Linked DNA regions of Homo sapiens. The protein of the gene in region 3 binds, or shares a complex with, the protein of the main gene of each other region. Each region holds a gene or a part of one and is shown on either strand. Other genes may lie near its edges.

The links.
Region 1: MCM4 (region 3) and GINS1 share a complex: the UniProt entries of both Homo sapiens proteins name them as parts of the CMG helicase complex.
Region 2: MCM4 (region 3) and CDC45 share a complex: the UniProt entries of both Homo sapiens proteins name them as parts of the CMG helicase complex.

What each region holds. Positions count from the first base shown.
Region 1 is NC_000020.11:25,403,167-25,410,734, forward strand, and holds the start of GINS1 (DNA replication complex GINS protein PSF1), read left to right. Parts: upstream 1-4,506; 5' UTR 4,507-4,654; coding exon 4,655-4,729; intron 4,730-4,904; exon of another isoform or gene 4,905-5,129; intron 5,130-7,568. UniProt on the Homo sapiens protein: Required for correct functioning of the GINS complex, a complex that plays an essential role in the initiation of DNA replication, and progression of DNA replication forks.
Region 2 is NC_000022.11:19,517,860-19,521,169, forward strand, and holds the end of CDC45 (cell division control protein 45 homolog), read left to right. Parts: intron 1-984; coding exon 985-1,049; 3' UTR 1,050-1,050; intron 1,051-2,621; 3' UTR 2,622-2,749; downstream 2,750-3,310. UniProt on the Homo sapiens protein: Required for initiation of chromosomal DNA replication. Core component of CDC45-MCM-GINS (CMG) helicase, the molecular machine that unwinds template DNA during replication, and around which the replisome is built.
Region 3 is NC_000008.11:47,970,820-47,977,940, forward strand, and holds part of MCM4 (DNA replication licensing factor MCM4), read left to right. Parts: coding exon 1-57; intron 58-521; coding exon 522-649; intron 650-2,037; coding exon 2,038-2,245; intron 2,246-3,914; coding exon 3,915-4,143; intron 4,144-4,895; coding exon 4,896-5,029; intron 5,030-5,866; coding exon 5,867-5,959; 3' UTR 5,960-7,121. UniProt on the Homo sapiens protein: Acts as a component of the MCM2-7 complex (MCM complex) which is the replicative helicase essential for 'once per cell cycle' DNA replication initiation and elongation in eukaryotic cells.

The DNA.
Region 1 (7,568 bases), on a different chromosome or scaffold from region 3:
TGCTCACATCCTGCATTCTTGATAAACAGTTTGCTGTTTGATAATATAGCCTCCAGTGGAATGCTGAGTTGGTCACAATCCCTTTGGCCTTTTCAGCTCCCAACATCTGACCTGACTGCTGGCCTCTCCTATCATCAACCTGCTCCAGCATCACTGCCTCTTTGCTCATCCTCAGCCGACCTTCCTGGGGCCTTTGCAGCTTGATTCCTCTGCCTGGAATTTCCTGCCTTCCCTAAGGCCCATAACCACTTGGGTTATTTTCTCCCTGTTCAGGTCTGTGCCTTCTCTGAACACTTGAACTCAAAACCCTGACTCTTTCACCTTCACTCTATTCATCTTCTTTGGGTTATTCTTAGTGCTTTTTCACCAATATATTTCTTATCAGTGTATCTGTGTATTGCGTTTTCCCACACTGGAATGTAGACTCTGTAGAAAGGACTTTGTTTACTGCTTTATTTTCAGTATCTAGGTCAATGCCAGGCTAATACTAGTGTAAACCAAAAATAAAATCCCAAACCCTCCATCCCCTGCTGACTGGATGGACCCCTTCTGGGCCAAGGGGACCCCAGGGAAACCTGAAAAAAAACAAAAATGGAATTATCGGCTATGACAAGAAGCAAGATGGGATGCACCTTGTTGTACCCCCTCCCTTTTGGAGTATAGGTGCAACTGGCCAGCATTAACATTAAAATAAAGATCCTAAGACTCACAAACACACTCTTTGTGGCAATAAGGTCCAAACTCCAACCTGACTGATGTAGCATCACATGACAGATAGCAGACTCTGAAGGAAATCAAGATGTTTTACCCCAAAATATATTTCTTTGAAATATTTTGAAATGGCCCTGGAAAGCCATCTTTTGTGTGGGGAATTTGCATCTGTTAAGAATCTCCGTTAATGCAGCCAGGTCTTTCCTGAATCTAGGAGAGGTTAAACAAGAGTTTAACACACCTTTTAAGATCCAAAAAGAGACATTTACCATCAATTCTTTCAGAAGGCTGCTGCCTATGAGGCTTCATCCACATAACAAGAAACTTGGTCTCCACAACCTCCCCCTTAACTCAATAATTTCCTTCTATTGACAGTCTTTAGACAAAACTTGACTCAACCAATTGCTAATCAGAAAATCTGTAAGCTCCCTGCTTCAAGATATCCCACCTTTTTAGGCTGAACAAAAGTACACCTTCCATGTGTTGATTTATGATTTTACCTATAATTCCTGTCTCCCTAAAATACATAAAACCAACCTGTAACCTGTAACTGCACTGCCTCAGGCACGCTTTCTCAGGACCTCTTGAGGCTGTTCCTGGGCCATGGTCACTCATTGGCTCAGAATAAATCTCTTTAAATATTTTAGAGTTTGGTTTTAACTTCAACACTAGGCATTTCATAAATATTTGCAGAAGGTATGACTGAATCATCTTAACTCCTTAGAGGTGGTTCCACTGTTCTCATTCTACTGTTAAGGAAGTGAGTCTTGGGGTCATTAATGAACTTTGCCTCTGGGCTGAAATTAAAAAGGCCTATGGCTGAGGAGGGTAGTGCATGCTGGTCTTTGATTCAGTCCTGCAGCATAGTCCAGTCTAGAGTTGTGTATTTGGGAAAAACACCTAGATAAACTATTCCTTACTGTAGAGATGAAAATATAATTGCCCAAGGGATTCTCCTTGTCCACTGCCCAGACAGAGCTGATTTATCAAGACAGGGGAGTTGCAATAGAGAAAGAGTTTTTTGGTTTTTTGTTTGTTTGTTTGTTTGTTTGTTTTTTGAGACAGAGTCTTGCTCTGTCGCTCAGGCTGGAGCTCAATGGCACAATCTCAGCTCATTGCAACCTCCGCCTCCAGTGTTCAAGTGATTCTCCTGCCTCAGCCTCCCAAGTAGCTGGGATTACAGGCATGTGCCACCAGGCCCAGCTAATTTTTTTTTTTTTTTTTTTGAGACAGAGTCTCACTCTGTCACCCAGGCTGGAGTGCAGTGGTGAGATCTCGGCCCACTGCAACCTCCACCTCCTGGGTTCAAGCAATTCTCCTTCCTCAGCCTCCTGAGTAGCTGGGATTACAGGCGTGTGCCACCATGTTCAGCTAATTTTTTTGTATTTTTAGTAGAGATGGGGTTTCGCTGTGTTGGCCAGGCTGGTTTTGAACTTCTGACCTCAGGTCATCCACCTTGGCCTCCCAAAGTGCTGGGATTACAGGTGTGAGCCACCATGCCCGGACAGGCTAATTTTTGCATTTTTAGTATAGATGGGGTTTCACCATGTTGGCCAGACTGGTCTCGAACTCCTGACCTCAGGTGATCCACCCGCCTCAGTCTCCCAGTGTGCTGGGATTACAGGCGTGAGCCACTGGGCCTGGCTGAGAAAGAGTTTAATTCACGCAGACCCAGCTGTACAGGAGACTGGAGTTTTATTATCGCTCAAATCAGTCTCCTAGAAAACTCCAAGATAGGGATTTTAAAGGATAATTTAGTGGGTAGGGGGTCACAAAGTGAGGGGTGCTGATTGGTTGGATGAGAGATAAAATCATAGAGAGTCAAAGCTGTCCTCTTGGGCTGAGTCAGTTCTTGGGTGGGGACCACAAGACCAGATGAGCCAGTTTATCGATCTGGGTGGTGCCAGCTGATCCCATCAAGTGCAGGGTCTACAAAATATCTCAAGCACTGGTCTTAGGTTTTATAATAGTGCTGCTATCCCTAGGAGCACTTGGGGAGGTTTTAGAATCTTGTAGCCTCCCGCTGCGAGACTCGTAAATTTCTAGTCTTGTGGCTACTCTGTTACTCCTGCAAAGGCAATCTAGTCCCCAGACAAAAAGGGTTTCGCTTTGGTAAAGGGCTAAGTATTTGTTTCAAAATTAAACTATAAACTAAGTTTCTCCCCAAGTTAATTCGCCCTAAGCCCAGGAATGAACAAGGATGGCTTGGCGGTTAGAAGCAAGATGGAGCCAGTTAGGTCAGATCTCTTTCACTGTAATAATTTTCTCTATTATAATTTTTTCAAAGGCGGTTTCAAAAAGGCAATGTTTGCTGGGTGCGGTGGCTCACGCTGTAATTCCAGCACTTTGGGAGGCCCAGGCGGACGGATCCCTTGAGCTCAAGAGTTGTCGACCAGACTGGCCAACATGGTGAAACCCTGTCTCTACTTAAAATACAAAATAGCCAGGTGTGGTGGCCTGAGCCTGTAGTCCCAGCTACTCAGAGGGCTGAGGGGGGAAAATTACCTCAGCCCGGGAAGTGGAGGCTGCAGTGAGCTGAGATGGCGCCACTGCACTCCACCTGGGTAACGGGAGTTAAGACCCTGTCTCCAAAAAAAAAAGGCAATGTCATTATTCAACATAAGCCTGAGTAGGCCATTCCCATGCCCATTCCTTAGATGACATATCTACTGTATATTTGCAAAAGATCAACATAGTTTCTAGGGTTAGCTAGAATTAATCCAAGATTGCGCCGGTTGCGGTGGCTCATGCCTGTAATCCCAGCACTTTGGGAGGCCGAGGTGGGCGGATCACGAGGTCAGGAAATTGAGACCGTCCTGGCTAACACGGTGAAACCCCGTCTATACTTAAAAAATTCAAAAAATTAGCTGGGCGTGGTGGCGGGCGCCTGTAGTCCCAGCTACTCGGGAGGCTGAGGCAGGAGAATGGCGTGAACCCGGGAGGCGGAGCTTACAGTGAGCCGAGTTCGCGCCACTGCACTCCAGCCTGGGCGACAGAGCGAGACTCCATCTCAAAAAAAAAAAAATCCAAGATTGCTTGTTAGAAATTAACATTGCTTTTTGAAAAATTGCCTAATAAAACAATTCTTTAGCAGTGATTCCCATCTTCCATATGCTTAAGAAATATTCCATAACCATCTAGCCAAGAAAATTCCTAGTGAATTCGTATTAATCTAGGGCAGATATTACAAATATTTTTAAAAGACTATTTTAAAATCAAAGGGTGGTACTGTGGTGTTGGAAATGGAAAGCCTAAATAACAGTCTAATCACTCTGGAGCTGTGTGACCTTGGGCAAGTTACCTAACTTCTGTTTCCTTATTAATCCCGGGTCTTAAAACACTTCAGAGATAATTGTGGGAATGAAATACACACTGCAGTCCCTACCAGCACTAGGTACCCAATAAAAGAGAGTTTCATTTTAATATCAAACAGAAAACCCGCACTGCAAAACTGAAACCCTTGCGTCCTACCAATGCACACCAAGTTTTTGGGCCTTTCCTCTTAACCTCAAAGTGCTCTTTTCTTGAACCTAAACGAGAATGAATGAATCAAAAGGAAAATGACAAGGAAGCTGCGGGGCGTGCATTTATTTCCAGCTCTGCTGCCCGTAGAGTCCCCCGGCCCACTGCCTGAGAACTGGAAAAGCCGTCTCTGCTCAGCCGAGGGGTTCTGCCATCTCCGGGGCGGGGACCTCACCTTGGAAAGACCCCTCCCACTCCGCCCCTCTTGGAATGCGGCTGAGCGGTGGATGTCCCTTTTCGGGCGCCGTAGGCGCGTTCCTATTGGCTAGCTTTGTTCGGCGCCAAAGCGCGGAGCGGAGGCCGAGGCGAGAGCCTGGCGCTGTAGGACTAGAACGAAAGGAGTGAGGCGCCGAGAGCCCAGATACCATTTTGGCGTGAGAGCTGGTGGTTGGCAAGGCCGCGGGAGTGGGAAGCGTCCGCCATGTTCTGCGAAAAAGCCATGGAACTGATCCGCGAGCTGCATCGCGCGCCCGAAGGGCAACTGCCTGCCTTCAACGTGAGGGGCGGGTAGACTTGGACGGGGCATGCCGGCGTTGGGCCCTGGGCTCTGGGGCGGGGCGGCTCCCCGTCAGGGTTCACTTTCGCACCTTGTTCCCTCCGAGCTCCGGAAAACTTGGGAAGCAGCAAAACAAAATTCAGGAGGAAAGAGAAAGCATTCATGCTTACGCTACCCAGCGATTTGGTGAATTTCCTCATCTGAGCAAATTTTGCATTTTAGCAGTTTTCCTTGGACAGATTTGTTCCGGTCCCTTAAAATATTTACAGGTTGCCTGATAATTTAGCATTTCTTGCTCACTCAGGCATCTAATCGTGGTCAGTAAAAGCTAGGCCTCTGGAACCTGGCTGAGATTCTGGTTCTGTAGTGTGACTTTGGGGCAGTTACTCAAGCTTTCTGTGCTCTCAGTTTTCTCATACGCAAAAATGGGGATGGTGACAATAATAGTACCCAACGCATGATGTAGTGGACGCAAAATGAGTGGCATGTGTAAGGGTCTCTGCATATGCCTCACATACAGTAAGGGCTGAGTCAGTGTTAGCTATTAATATTACTTTTCTCCTGCTGCTGCTGTTACTATTAATATTATGATTATTTGTATTTTTCTATCACTGCTACCCCAGGGAGAGTGCTAAGCACTTCATGTACATTATCTTTTGTCTTTCTAATAACCCTTTGAGGGCCCGGTACCATGGCTCCTGCCTGTAATCCCAGCACTTTGGGAGGCTGAGGCGGGAGGATCGCTTGATCCTGCCACTGCATTCCAGCCTGAGTGACAGGGAGACCCTGTCCCAAACAAAACAAAAATAACTTTTTGATGTTTAAACTATTGTTTTCTACTTTTTTCAGCTATATATGCATAGGATTGGGGAGATTTAAGTATATTGCCTAAGGTGACACAGCAAGAAAGCTAGGATTTGAACCCTGGCACTCTGGCTCCAGAGCCTGCACTCTAAATTGTATATTTCACTTACGTCATAGAGCAGGCATTATGTGGATGTCAGGACACATTCTGCTGGAAGATGGGCACAAAAACAGATAATAGAATTCACCACGCTAAGTGATACTAAGGAGGTATAGCAAGGAGCACGAAGGAGAAACACCAGTATGAGCTGGGGTAGAAGAGGTGATATATGAGCCTTTCCATCCTCAAGGATGAGGTTACTGATCTGAGAAGGAAGCGAGGCATCCCAGCCAAAGGATGCTGCAGCACAAAGTCACGTGGTCACACTGGAGAGGGTGACCAATAGGGCCTGTGGGGAGTCTAGGAAGGTGGCTCACAGCCTACATGAATTTGTTGTTCACTTATAAGGCATGCTGGGAGCTGGTAGAGGATTTTAGACAAGGAAGTGATAGGGTAATTTTTGTGTTTTGAAGGTAACTGCGGCAGCAATATGGGGAATGGATTGAAGAGAGGAAAGAATGGGACAGGGAGATGGCTACTGGGTGGCTGATAGAGCAGGTGAGAGGTGTGTGGTCTGAACTGTGTCAGGTCAGTGGCACTGAGATCAGTGTTTGGGTTTTAGAGACATGAAGCAAACATGACTTGTAGCTATTAGAGCAGGGGCAGAGATGGGGTCCATAATGAATAAGAGGGAGGAATTGGGATCTTGGAGGATCCTTAGGAAACTGGGTAAACAACATCAGAGTTCAGGAGATAGAGTGTGTTGGGAAAGGTAATGAGTTTTGTTTTGAACACTAAAGAGCACCTAGCCAGACAATTAGATTGTCTTACAAATGAAGAAACTGAGCTGACACAAATTATGGGTCAAGTTAAGGAACTCGTCTGAATTTACAGCATATTGGAGGTAGAGCTTCAACTTGAACACAGGTTTTCCAGTTTCTAGTCAATTGTTTTTTCAACTTCAGAGCAGTTACCTCATTTAAAAAGTTAGGCAGCAGTCTGCAGCTCAGTAGAGATGCTTGAATGCAGAAGTGTGTAAATGCTAAAATGTGGCCTGAGAACTAGGAACTTTAGAGGTCATTGTACATATCAGGACACAGGCCTAGAGAACAGAGAGACTGTGCAAACAGGTGCGGCCAAGCTGGATTTTGGACCTGACTCTGACACTTAGTTTAGCTCTCTGTTTTACTCAAATTTTAAGTTAAGTGTTGGGTTATCACTTTGTGGGGCTAGGGGCTGGTCTTAGAAGTTGTAGAATCAGGCCAGGAGTGGTGGCTCACGCCTGTAATCCCCCCACTTTGGGAGGCTGAGGCGGGCGGATTACAGGGTCCTGAGATTGAGACCATCCTGGCTAACATGGTGAAACCCCGTATCTACTAAAAATACAAAAAATTAGCCAGGCGTGGTGGGATGTGCCTGTAGTCCCAGCTACTCGGAAGGCTGAGGCAGGAGAATGGCTTGAATCTGGGAGGCGGAGGTTGCAGTGAGCCAAGATCGGGTCACTGCACTACAGCCTGGGCGACAGAGAGAGACTCCGCCTCAAAAAAAAAAAAAAGTTGTAGAATCACTGTCTTGTAGGTCTTAATTTGGTGGAGCACCTTTTGTCTCACTAGTGCCTTCCACTGACAAACCCACCTGATACTCAAGGTGATCCAGCAGCCTGGAACACTTAGTCAGCCTGCAGAGGCTGGCCTCCGACTCAGCGGCACAGAGGAAGGCTGACAGTGGATCTGAGAGGCCCAAGGACCACACAGGCTTTTCTCTTTTTTTTATTGTTTTGAGATGGGAGTTTCGCTCCTGTGGCCCAGGCTGGAGTGCAATGGTGTGATCTCGGCTCACTGCAACCTCCGCCTTCTGGGTTAAGCAATTCTCCTGCCTCAGCTTCCCTAGTAGCTGGGATTACAGGCGCCTGCCACCATGCCCAGATAATTTTAT
Region 2 (3,310 bases), on a different chromosome or scaffold from region 3:
GAGATGTGGGGGAGACCGTTCAGCTCATAACACCCTCAGTACTTCCTGCACCTCTGAGAAAGGATATTTTCTTGCCTCATCACCACGGATTCCTCAACAATGATAGACACTGTCATGGGAGATCCAGCCTTTGTTGAAGTGGCGTCAGCCATCTCAGAGCTGCCTTCCTTGAGCCAGACCCAGCCATGGCTGTGGCACTGTGTGGCATTGGTTCACCCCGCACAGCAGCCCCTGCTAACTCTTTTGTGCCTGTGATGTGGGAGAGGTGGATGGACACCCACTGGCCTGCAGAATATCTGGCCTTCAGTATACAGGGAGGACTCGGGCTGGGAACTGCTTGGTTTCCCTGAGGGTGGAGAGCCAGGGGTGAGGGTGCAGAGTGGGCCATGTCTAGTGCCCACCTGCGTGGGCTGGGTCTGGGGCTCTCGGGGCTGTGGCTGGCAGCATAGATGGCTCCCAGGGCCAGGCCAGCCCCATCCTGGGGCCTGGTTTTGCTTTGTGGTGAGGGTCTGGGTGCTCAGCTGAGCCTGAGGGCCCTGTGAGATATGGGCAGTTTGCACCATGTCCCCTTGTGCGGAAGAGAACACTGAAGCCGAGGAATTGGCCAGAGTGCGGCCAAAAGTGACCTGCCCCACCCAAGGACTTCCACAACCCACTCTGGGGACGGGGGTTCATGCCAGCTGGGGTGGGCAGGCCCGTGTTTGTCCAGGTCTGTAGGGCCCTTCCCTGTGTCACCTCTATTGTCTTCCCGGGGGGGAGTTCTCCCTGCAGGCCCCAACCCTGACCTCTCTAGCAGTGCAGACAGCAGTTGTGAAGATGAAGTACAGTGAGACAGACACAACCACTGAGTGCAGAATACCACAGGCCGGGAGGAGCCGCGCACTTTGGAATGCAGTGGAGGGCAGGCAGCGGAGGGGAGTTCTGTGCCCTGTCTTGTGTTCCCACTCCTCCCTTCTCACGGCTGTTTTTCTTTCATTACTTCAGTAATTGAGCTGAAAGCTGAGGATCGGAGCAAGTTTCTGGACGCACTTATTTCCCTCCTGTCCTAGGGTGAGTTACAGGGGTTCTGCAGGGGTGGCTGCAGCAGCCCCCTCAGAGCCCGACCCTGATGCCCTGCTCTGTCCTCCCTCAACGGAGGCTTCTACTTGGGTTTCAGACCGAAGCAGGGTTCTTGAGATTGGAGCCAACACATTTTTCCCAAGCACATCTGTCCTTAGGCTGCCAGCAGGGCCACAATGGGGCATTTTGAGGCAGCTAATTTCATTAAGCCCCTGCGATCCCTTCAGAAAGAGCTGGTATTCACCCTCTGCTGACCACACTTGGGCTGGGCATCGCGTGTGACACATGTCACACACAGACTCCCTGGTGCTGCCCTCGAAGGCCACCTGGAGCCTCCTGTCCCACAGCCTTCGTGTCAGGCGCTGGGCAAGAGCCCGCAGAGCAGCCATCCGGGCTTTTGTGTGCTTGGCTCATGAGAAAGCAAAGCTGTTGGCAGCCGCTTAGCTGGGAATTCCAAAGCGCTGGTTCTGCTGGGGCCTTCACCAGCACACAGCTGTCCTGAGGGCCCCATTGGGATTCACTGGCAGGTCACTGTCCCGGGACACCTCCCACTGCCCCATGTGCTACCTCTTTCTTAAGGGTTCCCAGGAAATAGGCCTGCCTTGTGTCTTTGTAACCATCTCTCAGCCCAGGTTCCCCACAGGGAATGCCACATCCAGCCCTGCATCTCCCAGAGCCCTAGCCTGGAGGCTGCGGCTGTGGCAGATGGGCCCTGCCAAGACTCTGTTGCAGGAGGTCCCTCAGGCCAGGCCTGGGGTCCTCCCCACTCTCCCATCCGTCCGTCCATCCATCCATCTGTCCATCCCTCCAGGGGCAAGCACCTGTTCTCCTGTTGGGGCTGGAGTGGGGGTTTCTGCTGACAACAGCATAGGGGGCCTCAGGGACCCCACAGTTCCTCTCAGGGTGGCCTGGGCTACATGGGGCCCATTTTGGGCGCGGGGCTCTGAGTCAGACCCTCGGGGTTTTTGGCAAGTTCTGTAGGGTCATCAGCAGTGACCTTGGGCCAGCCACCTAATCAGGCTTAGCCTGTTTCCTCATCCAAAAATGGGGCCCACTCTCTCCTTAGACGATGAGTGTGAGCATCACAGGACTGCATAGGGTGGGGCGGAGGCAGAGGTGGGGCTCTCTGGCAGTGGAGTGGGTGCTAGAGGCAAACCCCTCCCCTGCAGCCTGCTTGGTGGTGATGTTATGCTGCTGTGTGTCCTTCCACTGAGGCAGGGGCACAGGTGGCCTGGGCTAGGAGGGCTGAGCAGCAGAGTGCCGAGGGATGGAGGGAGAGCCCCCATGGGAGGGTGCCAGGGGGCTGGCTGAGCAGCTGGGCGGGGTCCGTGAGGTAAGAAGGTGCCCGGGCCAGGGGGCAGGAGCTCTGATGTAGGACAGCTCAGCCCAGTCAAGGGGTGCTATGAGGACAGCAGGGGCCTCCGAGTCTGGGGTGGCCTCACCCCCACAAGCAGTCCTGGCTACTCAGCAGCACTACCCAGAGGGGACGCCTGGGCAGTTTCTTCAATTCGGTGGCACATCAACATCGTTTGAAACTTGTTTTTTCTTGTTTTGTTTTCTAGAATTTGATTCTTCCAGAATGACCTTCTTATTTATGTAACTGGCTTTCATTTAGATTGTAAGTTATGGACATGATTTGAGATGTAGAAGCCATTTTTTATTAAATAAAATGCTTATTTTAGGCTCCGTCCCCATTGTGGCTCTGGTCTCGAGGCCAGTGCTTGAGTGTGCTCTGAGCCTTCTGTGGGTCTTGGGCCCCAGGAGCCCTCAGTGCCTGGCAGGAAATCAGCATGGGGATTGGCCCCAAGGACAAGATCTCCTTACTCTGTCCTCCAGGCCCTCCGGGTGGCAGTGGACAGAGGTCAGGACCCCTCGGCATCCCCGCCTCCTCATAGCACCTGCACCGGCCACTGCCTGGTGGTGCCAGCCAGCACCTGGCTCTGTCCACCTACCACTTCCTCTGGTCCACCTGGCCTCAGCCACATAGCAAGTCCACCCTCTCAGCCATCCCTCCACCTGTGGGTCTCACCATCCAGCACTCTTTTCCAGGTCTTTGAAGGCAGGAGTGATTTGGGTAGGTTTTAAGTCAGTGGGGAAAAGCTCAGAAAGAGTGGCCTGGAAAAGAGCACACAGGTAGGTGGGGCTGGTCTTGGTGCAGCCCTTGGCAAAGGGCAGTGGGCACAAAAGGGTGAGAGCTGGACTGGAGGCTGGGCCCCTCCCCTCACCTCTGGTGGTTTGCACAGCTTCCCGG
Region 3 (7,121 bases):
AGTACAAGATCGGTATTGCATGAAGTCATGGAACAGCAGACTCTGTCCATTGCAAAGGTGAGTCGCCTTCTCCACCGTGAACATGGACGTGTTTAAAATATGTGGACCCTTGAAAGACAGGGTCTGTGGAACTGTGCTGTGCTACCTTGGTTCTAACTTGGGGAGATTGATAAGTGCTTTCCACATCATATTTCAGCTAAATCTCAACATGTCTTCTACAGGGTGTCACGTTTTGTCTTTATTGCTGTACTAGCCTTGAATTTGTCCTAAAGCTCTTGCAAGGTGCCTGCTTCCTGAGAAAGATGTGGTTATAGCACACATTCATCTAAACTCAGTCCTTGGCATGAATCTGAGGACAGGGCTTATCCAGGTGAACTGCTGAAGTCAGTAAAGGCAACATGGCTCAGGCAATAGAAACTCAGTGGAGGGAATATGGGTTTAGTAGGTGGCCGGGCGAAGACGGTGCTTGTTAATTGCCAGCGTCAGGGAGAGGCTTCTAACTGCACTCTTTGCTCTGATAGGCTGGGATCATCTGTCAGCTCAATGCGCGCACCTCTGTCCTGGCAGCAGCAAATCCCATTGAGTCTCAGTGGAATCCTAAAAAAACAACCATTGAAAACATCCAGCTGCCTCATACTTTATTATCAAGGTATTAAAACAGATTTTTATTTTGTTCATTTGTAGAATATTCAGGGTGAGATTGAAAAGGAGCTACTAAGATTTCAGCAACTGCTAATGGAAACTCTTCACTCTTATCAAGATGTTTCAAATTTGGTTGGTCAAGAGTTTTCACGACAAGGATGATGTGTGTTCTCATTTGTTTTTTAAGCAGTTGGGATGTTTACCTCCCACGCCGTTTACACATGGCTGTCACTCACTACTCTTAGTCCTAAAGCCACTGCTGAGAGTCAACAGAGAACAATTCCGTACAGTAGATGAGGCTCTGAAAAGTTAGATTTATTAAAGTGCAATCACATAATCTTCACTCTTGGCCCCACTACAAATATTGGACATTTTTCATAAATGGATTTTAGGTTTTAATTACTTGCTTTTTTTTCTTTTTTTTTGACAGAAGTTTTTTTTCCCAAAAAAACAGTTGAATGTGTTTTCATTCAAATCTTTCCATTGTCAGCCAGGTACAGTGACTCACACCTGTAATTCCAGCACTTTGGGAGGCTGAGGTGGGTGGATCGCCTGAGCTCAGGAGTTTGAGGCCACCCTGGGCAACTTGATGAAACCCCATCTCTACTAAAATACAAAAAATTAGCCCGGCGTGGCGGCGCATGCCTGTAATCCCAGCTACTCGGGAGGCTGAGGAGGCACAAGAATTGCTTGAGCCTGGGGGAGTGGAGATTGCAGTGAGCTGAGATCATACCACTTCACTCTAGCTTGGGCTACAGAGTGAGACTCTGTCTCAAAAAAAAAAAAAAAAAAAAAACTTTCCATCGTCAAAATTATAGTAACGTTTCCCTAAGGGAAGACTTCCTTTGACTCAGCTGATTGGTCCCCAGCCGTTCCCTGGGCCGACCTAAGGACTAGGGACAGCACAGGGTGAGTGGGGTGAGTGGATGGACACGAAGGCCCTTTCCACACCAGGCAAAGATGCTTCTCCCTGATGGCGCTCACAGGGTGCACATTGACTGCACATCTGTGGTGCTCAAGCAGTCTTTAGTACGTCGTTTGTAGGTGTATTGGTGTCTCAACTAGGAAAACAGTTTTTTTGTTGTTGTTTTGGGTTTTTTTGTTTGTTTTTTTGAGACAGAGTCTCCCTCTGTCGGCCAGGCTGGAGTGCAGTGACGCGAACTTGGCTCACCGCAACCTTCGCCTTCCAGGTTCAAGCGATTCTCCTGCTTCAGCCTCCCAAGTAGCTGGGATTACAGGCAGGCACCACCACTCCTGGCTAATTGTTGCATTTTTAGTAGAGACAAGGTTTCACCGTGTTGGCCAGGCTGGTCTCAAACTACCAACCTCAGGTGATCCACCTGCCTCGGCCTCACAAGGTGCTGGAAAAACAGTATTTTTACTTTGTTTTCTTAGGTTTGATTTGATCTTCCTCTTGCTGGACCCTCAGGACGAAGCCTATGACAGGCGTCTGGCTCACCACCTGGTCGCACTGTACTACCAGAGCGAGGAGCAGGCAGAGGAGGAGCTCCTGGACATGGCGGTGCTAAAGGACTACATTGCCTACGCGCACAGCACCATCATGCCGCGGCTAAGTGAGGAAGCCAGCCAGGCTCTCATCGAGGTAACCCTGCTGAAAAAAGGCTTACTGTGCCTGTAGCCCACAGCATTAATGTAACTGACCAATCATCTCCTTTAAAATATTAATTATTTTGTTACGAATAACATACTGTTCTCTTCCTTGTTTTGAGACAGAGCCTGGCTCTCTTGCCCAGGCTGGAGTGCAGTGGCTTGATCTCGGCTTACTGCAGCCTGTGGCCTGTGCTTCTGGGTTCAAGCGATTCTCCTGCTTCAGCCTCCCTATTAGCTGGGATTACAGGTGCCCACAACCACTCCGGCTAATTTTTGTATTTTTAGTAGAGACAGAGTTTCACCGTGTTGGCCAGGCTGGTCTTGAAATCCTGACCTCAAGTGATGCGCCAGCCTCTGCCTCCCAAAGTGTTAGGATTGCAGGCGCAAGCCACCATGCTGGGCCTAAGAATAATAAACTTTTCTTTTTTTTTTTTTTGTGAGACGGAGTCTCGCTGTGTCCCCCAGGCTGGACTGCAGTGGCGCGATCTCGGCTCACTGCAAGCTCCACCTCCCGGATTCACGCCATTCTCCTGCCTCAGCCTCCTGAGTAGCTGGGATTACAGGCACCCACCACCACGCCTGGCTAATTTTTTGTATTTTTAGTAGAGACGGGGTTTCACTGTGTTAGGATGGTCTCGATCTCCTGACCTCGTGATCCGCCTGCCTCGGCCTCCCAAAGTGCTGGGATTACAGGCGTGAGCCACCGCGCCTAGCAATATACTATTTTTTATAACTGTTTATTACTTCCTCCCATATTGCAAAATTGATCTTTCCAAATGTTGCAAAAGGGGGAAATAGTTCATTTATGTAGGTAGTACACACACTTTATATGTTTAAGTACTTACAAGCATAGTGAATTTAAGATCAAAGACCTGGTTTCAAATAGAGGCAACACTACACAGTAATTTGGAAACTGAAAAAGTCATCCAGTTTCTGTAAGCTTCCTTTTGCTTGTAAAAAACAGAATGAGCTGTCTTTTAGGTTCACTTTTCAGCATCCTGGTACATGAGCTGAAGTGCATGATGGCACATTTAGGTTATTCAAGCATTGTGATATTAAGAAGGTTCCTGGTGCTTTGATGAGCTTTGCATCCTAACTGAGCTCCTAAAAATTCTAAGATGAAAGTTACAGACATTATGTAATTTTTTTGTGTGTCATAGTCTTGGGGGTTGTTAATGAAGAAATAAGACTGTGTCATCTGTATGTGAAATTGATACAACTTACCTTTGCAGCATTCTCCCAGCAATCCTTATGAGCCCCATTGTGCCCCATGTGAGCACTTTTCCCAGACAGGCCTGATTCTCCCTATGAGTGCTCACAGCCTTCTCCTCTCCCCACATGCCACATTCCTTCCCTCTGCCACGCCATGCCCGTCTCTGTTCTTCAGAGCTACGTTAGATGCCACCCTCTCCAAGAATTCTTCCCAAGCATCTCCCAGTTGGAATATGTTCACCCACCACTGCACGCTGCACGTTGATGTCTTCACCTGCGATTTCTGTGGTCTGTCTGTGTAGTCTCTACCACTTGATGAGCTCCGGGGCCCAGGACCATATCTGAGTTCCGTTTACTTAATGGAAGCCTAAGTGTTCAAAATTCACCCACAAAACTAAAGTTGTCACCAAGGAGGTTTGCTTTTGCTTTTGTTTTTCTACCTACAATAGGCTTATGTAGACATGAGGAAGATTGGCAGTAGCCGGGGAATGGTTTCTGCATACCCTCGACAGCTAGAGTCATTAATCCGCTTAGCAGAAGCCCATGCTAAAGTAAGATTGTCTAACAAAGTTGAAGCCATTGATGTGGAAGAGGCCAAACGCCTCCATCGGGAAGCTCTGAAGCAGTCTGCAACTGATCCCCGGACTGGCATCGTGGACATATCTATTCTTACTACGGGTTCGTTATTTTCAGTGAACAGAAAAGCTTTTGAAAATTATTTCAATATGCATGTAGTTTATATGTCAGATTTAAGCTAACAGTTAAATCATTTGAAACAGAAGTTCTTAACCTTTTTTGGATTAGGACCCCTTTGAGAATCTGATGAAAGTTGCCCTTTAATCTTATCTTGATAAAAATATTGATTAACACACACAGTTTTGTGTATAGTTTTTTTTTGTTTTTTTTTTTTATACTTTAAGTTTTAGGGTACATGTGCACAACGTGCAGTTTAGTTACATATGTACGCATGTGCCATGTTGGTGTGCTGTACCCAGTAACTCGTCATTTAACATTACGTGTATCTCCAAATGCTATCCCTCCCCCCTCCCCCCACCCCACAACAGGCCCTGGTGTGTGATGTTCCCCTTCCTGTGTCCGTGTGTTCTCATTGTTCAATTCCAGTTTTGTGTATAGTTTTAAGGAGATTCTGTCTCCTTGACTGTCTGGGAAGTTTTGTTAACCCATTTTAGAGAAGTTGTTTGTTTCTTAGCAGCAGCTGCTTGCTGCACAGATGTGTAGACTGTTAAGGAAAGCAGCAGCTAGTGGCTTACAGAAATTTCCAAATAATTAAAAACTCATTCCCTTCAAATGTACTCAGCCCCTGTCGCCTTATCTTTCTAGGTGATACTACTAAAGGAATATTTTTGAGAATTTGAAGCATTTCATTTCATAATAGCAAAAATGTTTTCATTGATTTCTTTTTAAATCAGGGATGAGTGCCACCTCTCGTAAACGGAAAGAAGAATTAGCTGAAGCATTGAAAAAGCTTATTTTATCTAAGGGCAAAACACCAGCTCTAAAATACCAGCAACTTTTTGAAGATATTCGGGGACAATCTGACATAGTAAGTGTTTATATGTATTTTTTGTTTGATAGAGCTTTCTCTTTTTCCTTAATATTGCTTTTGGGTTTTTTTCCTTTATTTATTAAATAATAAATATAGAGAAGAATGAAGAAAAGGAAGATGAACCATAAGCCATCATCAAGAAATAATCACAATTAAAATTTTTGGCTGGGTGCAGTAGCTCACGCCTGTAATCTCATTTGGGACGCTGAGGTGGGCAGATCACTTGCAGCCAGGAGTTTGAAACCAGCCTGACCAATATGGTGAAACCCTGTCTCTATTAAAAATACAAAAATTAGCTGGATGTGGTGATAAGCACCTGAAATCCTAGCTACTCAGGAGGCTTAGGCAGGAGAATTGCTTGAACCTGGGAGGCGGAGGTTGCAGTAAGCTGAGATCCCACCATTGCTCTCCAGCCTGGGCACCAGAGCGGAACTCCATCTCAAAAAAAAAAAAAAAGAAAAAATTGTTATGCCCCTTTCATAGTTGTTATAAGTTTGCTTTAGGTATGAAATATTTGGGTGTCCTTTTGTAAATAAGTAAGGTAGTTGTTTAGTGAAAAGAACTATGCAGTCTTTCAGTGCTGGTCCACTTTCCATCGCTGTGTTGTGACTGAGAGGGCAGAGTTGATAGTTACAACGTGGACTATACAGATGCCAAGTCTACCACATGGACCATCTGGCTACTCCACTCCTGATTTAGAGCATAAGGCATGTGTACAGCCACCAAAAAGAGAAAGATTCTGGGTGGTACTTTAACATTATAATTATTGTGTTTCTAACAGGTAAAGGAGGGACTTGACGTGTACAATATTTATTTTCTTTCTCTTCCCCACAGGCAATTACTAAAGATATGTTTGAAGAAGCACTGCGTGCCCTGGCAGATGATGATTTCCTGACAGTGACTGGGAAGACCGTGCGCTTGCTCTGAAGCCTTGTGAGCAAGGAAGGCTCCCTGCATGTCCTGCTTGCTGCACGCCACATGGGTGTGGTCTGCATCTCAGTTGGCCGCCATCAGTGTAAATAGAGCTTAAAGTCATGGTTTGGCTGCATAAAAATTTTCTAACTTGGGTTCAATATTTGTAGTGAAGTATCTGTTTTCATTTTTTTCACGTTATAAATAAAAATACTATGCTGGCCGGGCGCGGTGGCTCACACCTGTAATCCCAGCACTTTGGGAGGCCAATGTGGGTGGATCATGAGGTCAGGAGTTCAAGACCAGCCTAGCCAAGATGGTGAAACCCCGTCTCTAGTAAAGATAACAAAAAATTAGCTGGGCTTGATGGCATGCGCCTGTAATCCCAGCTACTCGGGAGGTTGAGGCAGGAGAATCGCTTAAACCCAGGCGGCAGAGGTTGCAGTGAGCCAAGATCGCGCCACTGCACTCCAGCCTCAGCAATAGAGTGAGACTGTCTCAAAAAAAAAAAAAAAAAAAAAACCTGCCAATTTTCAAACATACCGTAGAGATTATTTTCAGGTGCCATTTTATAGTATAGCAGCAGGGCTTTTACTCTGTGTATGCACAGATGCAGTCTGGGGCATGGTTTGTGTGCTGGACTTTCTCATGGCCATCATCAGTATGCTTATGGATTTGATGACAGGCATAGCCTGGGCATATCACCTCATTGGTAAAGGGCTAGAGCCTTTCTTTTTTATGGCACTTCTTTTTTTGAGATAGGGTCTTACTCTGTCACCCTGGCTAGAGTACACTGGTACAATCACGGCTCAATGTAGGCTTAACCTCCTGGGCTCAGGTGTATGTCACTATGCCCGGCTACTTTTTGTATTTTTTGGTAGAGACGGCTTCGCCACGTTGCCCAGGCTGCAAGCGATATGCCTAGGCTCAAGCGATCTGCCCACCTCAACTTCCGGAAGTGCTGAGATTACAGGTGTGAGCCACTGCACCCAGCCTTTGTTTTATTTTTTATTTTTTGAGAGGTATGATTCTTTCTAGAGATTTTTTCTCATGGCTACTATTAGATCAGGAATGGGTGATTGGAGATTATTAGATTCTAGGTTAACTTCTACCACTTTACCCTAATACATAAAACTTTTTCCTAAATAAATGATGGAAGGAATAATACTTGGTTACC